Homo sapiens: one gene and its partners. The protein of the gene in region 2 purifies or fractionates together with the protein of the main gene of each other region. This does not show direct contact. Each region holds a gene or a part of one and is shown on either strand. Other genes may lie near its edges.

Evidence for each region.
Region 1: the proteins of TFDP1 (region 2) and MCIDAS purify together in Homo sapiens (affinity purification with mass spectrometry; one large-scale study listed by BioGRID and IntAct). This does not show direct contact.
Region 3: the proteins of TFDP1 (region 2) and KDM5C purify together in Homo sapiens (tandem affinity purification; one study listed by IntAct). This does not show direct contact.
Region 4: the proteins of TFDP1 (region 2) and ZRANB2 purify together in Homo sapiens (affinity purification with mass spectrometry; one large-scale study listed by BioGRID and IntAct). This does not show direct contact.

The regions. Positions count from the first base shown.
Region 1 is NC_000005.10:55,224,516-55,228,771, forward strand, and holds the start of MCIDAS (multicilin), read right to left. Parts: upstream 2,801-4,256; 5' UTR 2,624-2,800; coding exon 2,504-2,623; exon of another isoform or gene 2,417-2,503; coding exon 2,320-2,416; exon of another isoform or gene 2,153-2,319; coding exon 2,061-2,152; intron 1-2,060. UniProt on the Homo sapiens protein: Transcription regulator specifically required for multiciliate cell differentiation. Acts in a multiprotein complex containing E2F4 and E2F5 that binds and activates genes required for centriole biogenesis.
Region 2 is NC_000013.11:113,587,753-113,591,252, reverse strand, and holds part of TFDP1 (transcription factor Dp-1), read right to left. Parts: intron 1-3,500. UniProt on the Homo sapiens protein: Can stimulate E2F-dependent transcription.
Region 3 is NC_000023.11:53,208,208-53,211,707, reverse strand, and holds part of KDM5C (lysine-specific demethylase 5C), read left to right. Parts: intron 1-52; coding exon 53-211; intron 212-850; coding exon 851-1,032; intron 1,033-1,131; coding exon 1,132-1,294; intron 1,295-3,500. UniProt on the Homo sapiens protein: Histone demethylase that specifically demethylates 'Lys-4' of histone H3, thereby playing a central role in histone code. Does not demethylate histone H3 'Lys-9', H3 'Lys-27', H3 'Lys-36', H3 'Lys-79' or H4 'Lys-20'.
Region 4 is NC_000001.11:71,071,036-71,074,535, reverse strand, and holds part of ZRANB2 (zinc finger Ran-binding domain-containing protein 2), read left to right. Parts: intron 1-1,987; coding exon 1,988-2,064; intron 2,065-2,280; coding exon 2,281-2,415; intron 2,416-3,500. UniProt on the Homo sapiens protein: Splice factor required for alternative splicing of TRA2B/SFRS10 transcripts. Binds to ssRNA containing the consensus sequence 5'-AGGUAA-3'. May interfere with constitutive 5'-splice site selection.

The DNA.
Region 1 (4,256 bases), on a different chromosome or scaffold from region 2:
AAGGGCTGAGGGCCCCAGACAAGTCCTGGAGCATGAGTGCTGCCCTGGTTGAAGGGGCTCATTCTTCAATAACTGGAAGGTCTCCTCCTGGGTAGGGATTTGAGAAAAGTCTCATGAGGAGACTGGAGGCCAACTCAGGAACTGGGGCCCTGGAAATGCTACCTCTTATGCCAATCCAGGTGTTGGTCCATTCTGAACCTCAAACATTTCTAGAGCACTTCCTCTCTCTGTCCACCTTTCCCAGCAGGAAAGGAATGGGGAAATGTGATCTGAGTGTCCCAGGGGTCTCCCTGAGTGTTTCTCCCCTGGGGGCCTCTTTCCTCTGAACTAGCTCTGTCTTTCCCAGGAAAATTCCTGGATTTTTTGGTCCATCTGATGTGAGCTCTGTCCTTGAAACTTCGAGGCTGGGCATAGTGGCTCATGCCTGTAATCTCAGCACTTTGGGAGGCTGAGGCAGACAGATCGCTAGAGCACAGGAGTTCAAGACCAGCTTGGGTGACATGGCGAATCCCCATCTGTACAAAAAGTACAGACAAACCAAAAACTAGCTGGCCGTGGTGTGTGCACCTGTAGTCCTGGCTACTTGGGAGGCTGAGGTGGGAGGATCGCCTGAGCCTGGGAGGTCCAGGTTGCAGTGAGCCATGATCATGTCACTGCCCTCCAGTCTGAGTGACAGAGTGAGACCTTGTCTCAAAAAAAGAAAAAGAAAATAAACAAAATGAAACTTTGAATTCTACCTCCCCAATTAGATAAATCTGGCATTTCTCCAACTACAAATGCAAGAAAAAAATTCTAACAAAGAGCATGATGCCAAATGTAGAATCTGTATACTTAGACAAACATCCAATGAGAGCTGCTTGGGTTTTGTTACTTGCACAATAAACATGCTGGGGTAAGGGAGTGACCTAGGCCTCTGGGTCAGTTGGAAGATACTCAGGCATTATCTTTCCTTATTTGATCATCCAGATCTAAAAAGAACAATTAAATGTCCTCTGCAGTGCAGTGCCCACTCCCAACTCTTGCCTTAACAATCTCTGCTCTCAGCAGCCACCTAAACTGAGTGTCTCTGGGCTCTAGCCCAAGGTTCTAGGAGGCCCTTGGAGGAGGGCTGAGTTTTGCTCCACCAGCACTCCCAGTTCTGGGAGGTGGTCAATTCTTTGTAGAGTTCCATACTGGGCCTGTCTGCAAACCCCAGACCTATTGCCAGCAAGCTGAAACTGGCACTTTTCCTGGGGGTTGCATCTGTTTAAGACCTCCTGTCCCTCTGGGCACTTCATGTCCTACCCATGAGCCAGGCTTCTGGCCTCCCAGACACCAGTGCTGGGAGACTCCCTTCTCTGCCTGGGAAGCGTCAGCACCAGCAAGTGGCGGAAGTGGGATGGGAGCAAGAAGACAGGTTTTGGGGAAAAGAAAAAAGTCAAGTGCCTTTTTGCCCCATCACGGCAAGTGACTAGAGCTTTTCGAAGGGCTGAACAGGACTTTGAAAAAGCGCCCAATTGCTGAAGGACTGTCTCTGCAGAGAAGAACATTTTCTGCAAGATTACTTCCAGAGTCCTTTGTCCTTCCTGCTTCTTCCAACTGCAAATTCTCTTGCTCTTTTCCAGTCCTGATAGAGAAGTTATCCATCAACCTCCACTCTTCTTATATACCCACGGAATGAAAATGGCCAGGAAGGGGGTGTTGGGAGAACTGATAGGAATGCAACAGGTTCCCAGTGCGCAACTTTGCTCCCACCCACCCGCCTGGTCTCTCAGTGCGCAATCTTGTCACAGCTCCAAAGAGTAGATAGGGTGGGAAATAGGAGGGGAGGCCTCCAGATGAGCCCGACTGTATCAAGTTGGTCAAATCAGCTCCAGTGGATATGTGGTCTTCATAACATACTAGGATGCAAGTAGAAGTTCTGATCTGGGAGGCTCAGGTGCCTGCACAATGCTTCCCCTCACCAGCTGAGTGTGCCTGCGCTCCCGACCCGAGAGGAGCTTTTGGGGAATTAAAACCACCACCCCGGAGGAGGGTTTGGGTTGCGTGAAACCACGAGGCTCCACGAGAAGGGGAGGTACCTGCGAGGCGGCCAGGTCACCACCAGGCGGCGCGTCGGACCCGAGTAGCGAAGAGCAGTCAGCGAGGTCCTGCAGGTCTATGGTGGTGAGGGCTGCGCGGGGAGACCGGGAGACACGCGCCGGGCGGGCCCTGAGCCTCTCCGCCAGGCTCGCAGCTAGGACGTCAGAGCCCGGGGGAGAGAAGCTCCTCCGAGCTGTGCGCGCCGCACCCTCCCGGCGCGGGGAACCCGAGGGGTAGCGTGGGTGCCACGGGGCTCACCTGGCAGCGCTGTGGGCTCGGCGTCCGGGGGATCCTCGTACACCGACACCGGGCTCCCGCCTGTGCATCCGGGGAAGAACTTCCGCGGAGGAGCGAACTGGCCGGGCACACAAACGTTGAACGCGGGTCAGCCCTCGGGGCACCGAGCGCGCAGACCCCGCCCGGCCCGAATCAACCGCCCCACCTTCCTCTCCGGCTTCCCCGGCTTGCAGAGCAGCGCCCGGCCCGGCAGTGCCAGCATTCTGTTGGGGCAGATGCTGTCGAAGGCCCGACGGCCGGCCGCGCCGCCCCCGCACGCCTGCATTGTGCCTCCTGCCTCCGGGTGCCGACTGCTCGGAGGCGGCGGCCCGGGCTGGGGCAGCGATCCACACCCTGCACTCCCTTCAGTGCCTGCAGGCTCCGAAGCCAGCCAGAGGTTGGGGCAGGCGCGTGACCGAGAAGGAGCCGAGGGGCTGCCGAGGAGGTGCTGAGAGATGGCGGGGGAGGGGGAGGACCGCCGCGCGGGAGGGGTGGCTTGCGCCTGAGCGCCAGAGGTGGCGCCTTCAGCCCGGGACAATCTGCGCGCGGGCGGAGGCGTTAAACCCAACCTGGCAACCGGGCTTCCCCCGGGAGCCGCCAGCGCGGGGCCCCGGCCCGCCAGCGCCGTTTCGGCGAGCTTTGGCGCCGCCGCCTCCCGGACGCGCCAGGCGAAGAGAGGGAGAAGGAGGGGCGGGCAAACGCCGGTCTCCCTCGCCCTGGGTACCGTCTTCCCGCTTACAGACAGGGGGAATGGCAAAGTTAACGATTATTTCCTTTTCTTCCCACTCCAGCCACAAGGCGCACGAAATAAACGTGGAGTGACACCCGCCAGCGCTAGACTCCGGCCTTTGCGCTCCTGCAGGATTTAGTAAGGATGTAGAATACCGGCAGGGATGCCCTGGAACAGCCCCCTTATTACAGAAGCCCCTTCCCTCAAACCTGAACCTTATCCTGGGTCCTGACTTATGGATTTCCACGTGGTCTCTTTTGGCCTGACGCCAAGAGCCCGCCCCGCTCCCCAAGCCCCGCACTCTTCTCGGCAGTGGCGCGTGAGCACAGCCTTTAAAAGACCGTCCGTTAAGAAAAAGTGACACTACGAACCCTCCTCCACTTTCTGAAAACGCCACAGTGGAAAGTACCGAATCCCCGAAAACCCTGTTCCTGTCTTTCCTAGTGGCCTCAGCGGCCCATCGCCACGTTTGGCTGGTCTCTTCGCAGTCGTAGTTGCCATTCCCAAGCCAACACCTCTCCAAGGAATGGGCATTTTCCTGAGTCCGAGGCATCTCCTAGGGAGGGGCATCCTTAGGCGAGGGACCTTTCTCAGTACCACTCATATTCATCCAATTTGAACAGTCGTCTGAAATTGGAATCTTTGTGTACCCACCCCCCTATGTTGGGCACCTTGTTTTCCCCTTATACCTAGTAGTCGTAGTGAAAGAGCCTCTAGTAAGAAACAAGATACCCTAACAGCGGTGGAAGGTAATCCAATGGTAGAGCTGGAATAGAGTGAGAGACTCTCTGACCCAGGAGTAGATGCAGAAACTGAATTGATGTGAGGTCAGCCAGCTAGAGTTGGTGTGGTATGGCTCATGGTGAGGAGCTCTGGCTTTAGGGTCAGAGTGCCTGAGGACCAGGTCCATGAGCCCTAGGTCTTTAGGAAAAAAAGTTACACTGGCCTCAATAGAGTTGCTGTGAAGATGAGTGAGATTATTTATGTAAAGTGACTGGTGCTTAGTATGGGTAAATTAGTGATTTTTTAAAAGCCTTTTCAGCTGTATTTCCAGCTTCCCACAACTTGTTCCTAGCCCTGTCTCCTGTTTCCTCTGGTTTCTGAGTAGCACGACCACTAGCCAGTCCATCTCCATCTCCATCCCCATCCTCACCCACTTTCCAGCCTTTAAAATGAGTAGGGAAGCTCT
Region 2 (3,500 bases):
TCTCCTTCTCAGCCTCGAGAGTAGCTGGGATTACAGGCGCCCGCCACCACGCCCAGCTAATTTCTGTATGTTTAGTAGAGACAGGGTTTTGCCATGTTGGCCAGACTGGTCTCGAACTCCTGACCTCAGGTGATCCACCCGCCTTGGCCTCCGGGATTACAGGCATGAGCCACCGTGCCCAGCAGGGGCAAAACTTTTAATTAACCTATAATTTTCTTTTTCTTTTTTTTTTTTTTTTTTTTTGAGACAGAGTCTCGCTCTGTCGCCCAGGCTGGAGTGCAGTGGCGTGATCTCTGCTCACTGCAAGCTCCGCCTCCCGAGTTCACGCCATTCTCCTAACTCAGCCTCCCCAGTAGCTGGGACTACAGGCGCCCACCACCATGCCTGGCTAATTTTTTGTATTTTTAGTGGAGAAGGGGTTTCACCCTCTTAGCCAGGATGGTCTCAATCTCCTGACCTTGTGATCCACCTGCCTCGGCCTCCCAAAGTGCTGGGATTACAGGCGTGAGCCACTGCGCCCGGCCCAACCTATAATTTTCTAATTTTTAATATCCCTTCAGAGTTTCTCTAACCTCATCCTATGTAGAAAAAAAAAATCCTGAAATATGAAAAGACTCTTGTAAAAACAAGCACGTCATCATAGATTTCTTCAACACTTAAACCTGAGGGGGCTAAACTGACAACCTTCTTAACCTCAAATGTAAAGTTGTTTCTTTATGAGGACAAAAGAAGGCCTGAGTCGCTGAATCCTGTTCCCAGAACTCACTCCTTCAAGCACTGAAGGAAACAGCAGTTTGTTGCTGCATCAGGTTCACCTCTTCAGGCCTGAACTTCACCATCCAGGTCTGTAAAAGGACACCTGGTGGTAGACCCTTAGAGGAGCTCATTGGTCCCCTCTTGGCATTAGCAGAGCCTCGTGACAGCATCACTCAAACGCCTCCATGGTGGGACGCACACAGTTCTCTTGGTCCCCAGCTCTCAATTTCAGGATTTCCCCATAAACTCACAGGACACAAACAGGCACCACAGAACGGCTTTCACAACCAAGGCACGTGAATACCGGGCAGTGACGTCCACAGCCACGTTCTCTGCACAGGGAGCTGACCAGGTCCAAGTGCCCGCACAGCCCAAGAGCGAGTTCAGATGCCCTGCATCTTTACCAATGGCAGGAGGAGCTTGGAGAGGCGAACGGGACCCCAGAAACAGCCCCACACGGGCTACATCCCGAAGTCTTACAGCAAAAGCATCCCTGTAATGTTTGATGAATTCATCATCTGCCTGCCTTCCCACTTACAAACTTTCATGACACTGGACAATCGTGTGTGACGACAGGATGTTCCGAGGTAGGGAGGGGAGAGGCAGAGCTCTGCCTGATCCCACCAAGGGTCATGCTGCCTGGGCAGGCAGGAAACTTGGCCGCAGGCTGAGATGCCAGTGCCAAGCCACACTCCCTCACCCAAGGGCCCTGCCAGCCCAGCTCTAGAACAACTTGAGCCCCTGCAGCTGGACTGACTCGTGACAAGGGTCTGTCCGACTCTAAGGAGGTGCCAAAGCACCTTCCAAGACTGAATCTGAGGACGGTTCCGAGCACCACCGGTACCTGCAACGGGAGCCCACAGATCTGCGGGTCAGAGCCACCCTGTTCAGGAACCAGAGGACAGCCTCCCTAGGCCCTGAGGCGGAGGGCCTGAGATGTTTCGAGGACAGTTCAGAAACTCAAAGAGTCTGTACGGACCTCCCAGGGTGTCTCCAAACTTAAGACAGGACTGCACCTGAGGCTATCACAGACCGGGTGGGCCAGGCATGGAAACAGACAGTCCCCACAGCAAGGAAATCCTCCCCATATTGCCAGGAGCAGCCCATAATCTTGATCATAAATTTCTGTAAGTGATCCATGCTATGCCAGCGCTCCTGCTGGGCAAGACCAGGCCTCAGGTTCCCGGAGCCAGCCAGGTGGCCGTATGGCAGCTGACTCCTGTTCTCCACATTCTCCCACTTAACAGAGTATAAACACAAATATTCCATTTGAATTTACCATTTTAATTCAAATAAGTGCAATAAAATAAAAAGTCCCTGAGCAAGACAACAGAAACCTAATCCTTCTCACCATTTCTCCAGCTGGGCCCACTCAAGGACCATCAAAGGCAGCCACCTTCTAGGCTGTTTCCTCCTTCTGTGACCCTACATCACCCACTCCAGCACCGCCACTCACTCTCCACCCACAACACCATCACCACACTCACTCTCCTCCAGTCTACCACCATCACCACTCACTGTCCACCCACAACACTACCATCACTCACTCTCCACCCACAACACCATCACCACACTCACTCTACCAACTCCACCATCACCACTCACTCTCCACCTACACCACCATCACCACTCTCTCTCCCCCAGTCCTACCACCACTCACTCTCCATCCAATCTACCATCACCACTCACTGTCCCCGAGTCTACCACACTCACTCTCCGTCCAATCTACCATCACCACTCACTCTCCACCACTCCAGCACCACCACTCACTCTCCATCAAGTCCACCACCACTCACTCTCTAACTACTACACCATCACTGATCACTCTCCTCACTGCTCCACAGTCATTTCCTACCCACTCTGCAAACTTTTCAGAGTACCTCTCTCCTCCCTCGTGTGTAGCTCCTTGCCATATAGACCTTCACACCCACTGCCTGTCAACTGCTGTTCAAAGATGACACCCCCAGAGGACTGACCTCATCCTCTTCTTTCTGCCCCTCACTCACATGGAGCCATTTGTGGCCTTTTCCCACCCGCTTGTCTCCCTGTGCCCTACTTGAGGTTGGAAGCTCCGGAGTTGTTTTTCTCTTGTGTTCTCTCCAGAACCTTCCAGCCTCAGGTCTTGGATGTCCTTGTTTCTCCTCCTCCATGGTGACTACCAGGGCCTAGCTCCAGCTCCCTGCATCCTGTGGCCCCTCATGGCCCTCTACAGAGGCCCCAGGGCACTTAGAAGCTGGAGGCCTGCCTCCTTCAACCCAAGTGGCACAGCTTTCCCCCAGCATAAAGGCTTTTGACATACACCTGTGGTTTTACTGCAGTACCAGTGCTTTTAAAAACCTAACTGGTGGGCTGGGCACAGCGGCTCACGCCTGTAATCCCAGCACTTTGGGAGGCCGAGGTGGGTGGATCCCCTGAGGTCAGGAGTTCAAGACAAGCCTGGCCAACATGGTGAAACCCCGTGTCTACTAACAAAAAATTAGCTGGGTGTGGTGGCGCGCCTGTAATCCCAGCTATTTGGGAGGCTGAGGAGAAGAACTGCTTGAACCCAGGAGGCCAAGGTCACAGTGAGCTGAGGTCGCGCCATTGCACTCTAGCCTGGGCAACAAGCAAAACTCCGTCTCAAAAAACAAAAACAAAACACCTAACTGGTTATCGATGTTCCCTTCTGCAAAAGCTGCCAACATCATCTTTTCAAAACTCAAATGTCACACCTCTACTTAAAAGAGTTAGCTAGGCCGGGCGCG
Region 3 (3,500 bases), on a different chromosome or scaffold from region 2:
GTGGGTCCAGGGTGTGATGGGCCATAGTCATCTGCTACCTGTCTTCCCCCAGATGGTGCCCACAGAACTTGTGGAGAAGGAGTTCTGGAGGCTGGTAAATAGCATTGAGGAAGATGTGACTGTTGAGTATGGAGCTGACATCCATTCCAAAGAATTTGGCAGCGGTTTCCCTGTCAGTGACAGTAAACGGCACCTAACCCCCGAAGAGGAGGTGAGTGGATGATTCATGGTTACGTGTCAGCTGTGTGAGCTTAGGCAAATCATTTAGTATCTGAAAAACTCAGTATCTCTGTAAGATGAGGATAATTATGCCTGTCTTATGTAGCCATGAGATTTAGATGAGATGAAAGAAAACAGTCTGGTACCTGGCATGTACAAACATGAGATGGGTTCTTTCGCCTCTGTGAGCCCATTTCCTTATCTTTAAAATGGGGATAATATCTACTTTGCAAATTTGTTATAAAAATTAAATGAGAAGGTATATGAGATCCTGGCTCATCCATAAGTAGTGTTCAGGGAGTGGGGTTTGTATGCACAGGAGAAAATGAGGGCCTAGTTGTGCTTCCAAGAAAGGGTACATTTTGATCCAGAGCAGGATTTTTTTAACTTGCAGGTATTTTGGTAGGTGGATATATCGGTAAACTTCGTAGAAATTGAAGTGAATACAATTGAAATTTTGTGTGTATGCTTTTTGGTGGAGAGGTAGGGAGAAAACCTATATGTTTCTTAAGATGTTTCAAAAAAGTCTCTGACCTCAAAATTAAGGTTCCCTAGGCTAAAGAAAATGACTTAAGATCTCAGTTCCTTAGCATAACCCTCATGCCCTTTTTACAAATACCTGACCTGGCAGGAGTATGCTACCAGTGGTTGGAACCTAAATGTGATGCCGGTGTTGGAACAGTCTGTACTGTGCCACATCAATGCAGATATCTCTGGCATGAAGGTGCCCTGGCTCTACGTGGGCATGGTCTTCTCAGCCTTTTGCTGGCATATTGAGGATCACTGGAGTTACTCCATTAACTACCTCCACTGGTGAGTGGGACCCTGGGGAGCCAGGGAATCAAGTCAGTGTGGGCTCCCTGCATGACCAAGGTGTGATTTACTGTGTGTGTCCCTTTTCCACTTGTGCAGGGGTGAGCCGAAGACCTGGTATGGGGTGCCCTCACTTGCAGCAGAACATTTGGAAGAAGTGATGAAGAAGCTGACACCTGAACTATTTGATAGCCAGCCTGACCTCCTGCACCAACTTGTCACCCTCATGAATCCCAACACCCTCATGTCCCATGGTGTGCCAGTGAGTACCCAGGCAACAGGGACAAGCGGCAGGAGTGATTTAGTGATGTCCTTTGTGATGGTGGTGGTGGCGGTGGTTGTCATCTGTATTCTGCCCCTGGCCTTTCTTCATTGCTGTTCTTAATTGGGCTACGGGTTTGACTAGTCTAGTAGAGACCCAAAATAATAGTGATTAGATGCACCGTATGATGGTATGCCCTCTGGGCCATGTGTTTGACGGTAACAGCTAAGGGGTGGCTTATTATCACATCTACATTCCAGCCAGTGGAAGAGGGAAGTGGGGAAGTGCAGGGCTAGACAAATCTTTTAAAGGCACACATCATTTCCATTCACCTTCTGTTAGTAAAAACTTGGTCATATGACCACATCTAGCTGCAGGGAAAACTGGGAAATGTAATTCTTATTTTGGATGGTCAAGTACCACTTAAAACTGGAGGTCATGTTGTTATGACAGAAGACAAGAATGAATATCGAGGTACAACTAGCAGCCTCTGCCATACTTTGTATACTCTTACCCTTCTCAGAGCAGTGGATAGGTCTTTTTATTTAACAGGTCAAAAGTTGAACCCAGAGTTCTGGTCTATCCTCTGTGTACTTCTTTCTTACCCTTTAAAACATTTTGCTGGGTATACAACATGGCTTACCTGTGAGAGACTTTATATTCCTGGGAATTTCTAGCATTGATTAGCATCAGCCAGTTTTCTGGTGTGGATCTTAAAACAGCCTGATCACTAGTCCTGTAAGAACAGGAATTAGTAGATCCTCTATCTCTGCTTTAAGTATTATCCGGGGCTGCTACTCTTCCCTACACCCTTCCACGCTCTTTGGCCTTGGACACATTACCACTTACTCTAATGTATGAGATAGTCAATAAATACTGAATTAATGTCTCCTTCAGATATTCCTAGATATCTGTACAGTAGGGCTTTGGACTAGGTCAGTGGTTCTCACCTGCATTTCTTTTTGCCTTCTCCTTGTTTTGGTATACTATATGCCCCATGAGTAATATTTTTTTATTATAAAATTTAGTGATATTTAACCAAGGACTTGGGATATCTAGGGAATTGGACAGAAGGAGGTGTCCTATAACAGTTCAGGCAATCTTCCTCCACTCAGGGAGTTATCCTTTTCTCTCTCTACCTCACCCCATTTAAGGATGATGATCAAGGGCTTGAGTTCTGCTGCTTTACAAGTAGACATGGGGTCTGACTTTCCTTAGACTTCTCTCTTCCTGACCCATAGCACAGCATCAGTCCTTGTCTATAATGCCATGGAAAACTGTAAAAGAGGATTCTCTTGGCCAGGCACGGTGGCTCACGCCTGTAATCCCAGCACTTTGGGAGGCCAAGGCAGTCAGATCACTTGAGGTCAGGAGTTCAAAACCAGCTTGGCCGACACGGTGAAACCCCAGTCTCTACTAAAAATACAAAAATTAGCCAGGTATGGTGGCGCACGCCTGTAATCCCAGCTACTCAGGATCAGGAGGCAGGAGAATCGCTTGAACCCGGGAGGCAGAGGTTGCAGTGAGCCGAGATTGTACCACTGCACTCCAGCCTGGGCAACATAGTGAGACCCTGTCTCAAAAAAAAAAAAAAAAAAAAAAAAAAAAGAGCCGGGTGTGGTGGCTCATGCCTGTAATCCCAGCACTTTGGGAGGCTGAGGCGGCCGGATCACCTGAGGTCAGGAGTTCGAGACCAGCCTGGCCAACATGGTGAAACCTCGTCTCTAATAAAAATACAGAATTAGCCGGGCGTGGTGGCACGTGCCTGTAGTCCCAGCTACTGGGGAGGCTGAGGCGGGAGAATCACTTGAACCCAGGAGGCGGAGGTTGCAGTGAGCCGAGATCGTGCCATTGCATTCCAGCCTGGGCAACAGGTGGAGAGACTCCATTTCAAAAAAAAAAAAAAAAAAAAAAGGATTCTCTGAAGGATTTGGGTAGCTAAGAGGCATATATATATATATGTGTGTGTGTATATATATATATATATATATATATATGTATGTGTATATATATGTATATATACATATGCAGAAGGTCATGGAGCTGTTTAGTCCTTACCGCTTTTTAAAAAACTTTATCACAGAATCCAAAATACGTGCTTTTTGCTTACACCTCCACAGCATTTCTCCTGCTCGTGGCTCATCATCTTCTCTGGCCAGCTGCTACTTTACCACCCAGCCCTCTGTCTGCCCTGCCCTTCCTATAG
Region 4 (3,500 bases), on a different chromosome or scaffold from region 2:
GTTTTCCTGTTAGTGCCTTAGTTCTTCCTTTGAAGTACATGTTATATTCATCCCCCTTTCCCGCTTTTTTTCCATTGTCACAATCTTGATCCAAACATTCATTTTAAACCTGTGTTTGATTCTTTCTTGGCCCTTGCTCAGCTTTTTACATTATACTGTGAGACAAATTTGAAAATATATTCATTGTAAGACTTACTAAAATCTACGGAAATTCTTGGTTGCTTTCTAAAGCTTTCCATAGAAATTCAAATTCATTAGATGATTCCAGAATTGTGTTTTCTGTATTCATTCCTTGAAGACATTTATAGGCCACTGTGCAAGGTGCTGGGGATACCTAGGTGAGCAAAAGAGTCTTACAGCACCAAAGATTAATGAAGTCCTCTTTAGGAAAGCTATGCTTAAGCTAAGAAGTGAAAGATGAGTTACCTGAGTAATGGATTAAACACTCTTCTTTCTGTTTGTGGAGAAGTAATTAGGAGAGGTGGCGGCAAGAGTGGAAATAAAACCAATTTATACAGCATTATCTGAAGTGCTTGAAATTAGTAGAATGACGGAAACATACATATCATTCCATTGATTCCACTATCTCAGGTATTCAGTGAAAATGGTATGCTTCAGTTTTTTCACGATAGGGAGCTAGTGTATTTTCCATTTATACAGAGTTAATGAGCTAGATTTATATTGTATGGGTTCATAGAACATACCAATGTCTTTGTTGTCAGCAGACTATTTTGCTGCCTCTTAAAATAATTTTATTTACATACTTTTGAAAAATTAACTACTAGAGTTATAGTTCACTTTCTAATTTTACTATATTTTTGAGCTTTCCATATTTGTCATATTACTTTTCAGTTTTTTCCTATGTAAATTATTTCCAATTTAGATCCCACGTATGTTTAAAAATATTTTTATTAACTTCCAAGTATTTTGAAGTTTTCACTAGTACAAAGTATAATGAAGAAAAGATGCTATATTAGTGTGGGTTTTTTTCAGAAAGTGAAATTTTAAAAATATTTTTTTAAATATGATAGGCAAATTTTAAGTTACAAGTCCTAATTTTTATAAAATATTTTTATTATAAATCTATTTAATATTTTGCTGATGAATGAAGTCCCTAAGTCTGGAAATCACCGGCCTTATTGTACTGATACTGCTCTGGAGTATGTGACCAGTTAGATTGTATTACTCTTGATCAACACATACCTCTTTAATTTTCAATGGGAGACTTTTTCAAAATATGTCAACTCACTTTTCCTAAAACTAGCTCATTTTCTTTAATTCCAGTCTCTCCTTTAAGCTTATGTCAGAGACCTGCCAATTGAATTGTATACATTGGTTGTGACATGAGAGAATAGTGGTTTGCTAATCTCAACTACTTTTTAATAGAATCATTTAATTTCAAAATTTACTGGCTACTTCAGAGAACCTGTGTGACTTTTACCTATGTGTTAAAACCAATTAAACCAGGGCCAAAGGATGGCCTTTATTGTGTTATTGTGTTTGTCTGTGTAATTAGGAATTTTCCAAGCTCTAATAAGGCCTGCTACATTTTAAAGTAGCAAAATTTCAGAATATCAGAAGATTTCAGACTATTTGCAGTTGGTAAACAGTGGAATTTAATGCTTGGTTGTTACTGAGCCCACCCTTCCCAGAAGAATTACGATTAACTGTAGAGGAAAGTCCTTTAAAACTTGGTTATAGCAGAAGTTTGAGATGTTTTCCACCAATACTTTCTATGAATTAAATAAGTCATGTAGGGCAATTTGGAATTGAAAAGAGCTAGAAGTACAGCCATATGACGTTACAACTAAGTTCTCTGTATTTTCTGTGGTGATTTCTAATATGCTTTCTAAAGACTAGTAATTTATTAGATGGGTAGGCAGCCATTGTTGATTAGATGTTTTTTGTTGTCTGGAGATTTGGGCATGATGTGTTTATTATTTAAATCAATTGTCATAGGGTAACAATTTGTGCCCTCTTTTTTAAGGATATGGTGGTGGTTTTAATGAAAGAGAAAATGTTGAATATATAGAAAGAGAAGAATCTGATGGTGAATATGATGAGGTAAGCTATATTTTGGTGTTCAGGTTGAATATAAATTAGAAAAACAGAAAAAATTCTTAAATGCAAAGGAAAACAAACTTTTTTTTAAGTGCAATTTGAGTCTTCAGCAACTGATCATTTTCAGGAAATCATAAATATCTAAAATAATTTTTTAGAAAATGTATTAAGTTTAATGCATTATCAGCTGACAAGCATTTTGAAATTGTTTTTCTCTAGTTTGGACGTAAAAAGAAAAAATACAGAGGGAAAGCAGTTGGTCCTGCATCTATATTAAAGGAAGTTGAAGATAAAGAATCAGAGGGAGAAGAAGAGGATGAGGATGAAGATCTTTCTAAATATAAGTTAGATGAGGTGAACAATTTTCTTGTCCTATTTCCCTTTTGTCTTATTGGAGTTATACCATAACATGAATGCTTTTGACAGCCTCAGACACTTGGTGAAAATATATTCTGTGTTTTCATTTGTTCTCACAAAGGTTTTGGATTTCCACTCTGCCAAGTACTATTTGTACTTGGAACACTACTGTTCTGGAGATACAGTGGTGACCGAAACAGAACCAGTTTTCTCTTACACAGTTCTAGAGGAGGAAATATATAAATAGGTAATTTTGATAGCAGTAACGTTATGAAGACACATGATGTGATAACAGTTTAAAAGCAACTTTGGTTTTGCCGATGGATAATGTCTAAGGAGGTGAAGTTTGAGCTGAAACTTGAATGATAGGAAGGAGCCAGCAATAAGAGCCGAGGTGAGAGCACATTTAGGCAGAGAACAGCAAATACGGGTTCCCTAAATAGGAGATAAGCCAGCAGCCTTCAAAAATACCATACATAGGCCAGTATAGTTAGAGCAGAGGGGAGAATGAGATGAGGGGGACAGCACACATTTCAGGTCTGGTGATACTTGTTCTGTCAGGCCAGAGTGTAAGTTTTATGCCATGTTAAGGGTACCTTAGAGCCTGATCATAAGAGGTCTTGGAATGCAACTAAAGAAATAATAAGCCAGTTTTGAAGTTTTTAAGAAAAAAGTGAGATGTGTTTATCTGTCCTGTGTTTCAGAGTGATGACTGTCAGTATATTGAGATACTAGAGAGGCAGAATGGATCTTCAGATTTGAGGAGACCAGCTAAGAGGTTACTATAATATGCTAGAGAATAAGGAACAGAGTGTCTAAGACTAAAAATGGTGATTTCAAGGACTTTTAAGGAGGTGGACTTGAAAATTCTTGGGTGATGCATAAGTGTGACAGAAAAAGTGTGTATGGCCTCCAGGTTTATGTCTGTGCAATACCTGAGACAAAGTTGTCAAGTCTCTATTTGAGATGAGTTTAGTAGGTGAATTTTAGAATTCAGAATTAATTTGCTGAGATACCTGTGATATATGCATATGGAGGTGCTCAGTACACCTAACTGTTTTATCTTTCCTGGTAGGTAACAC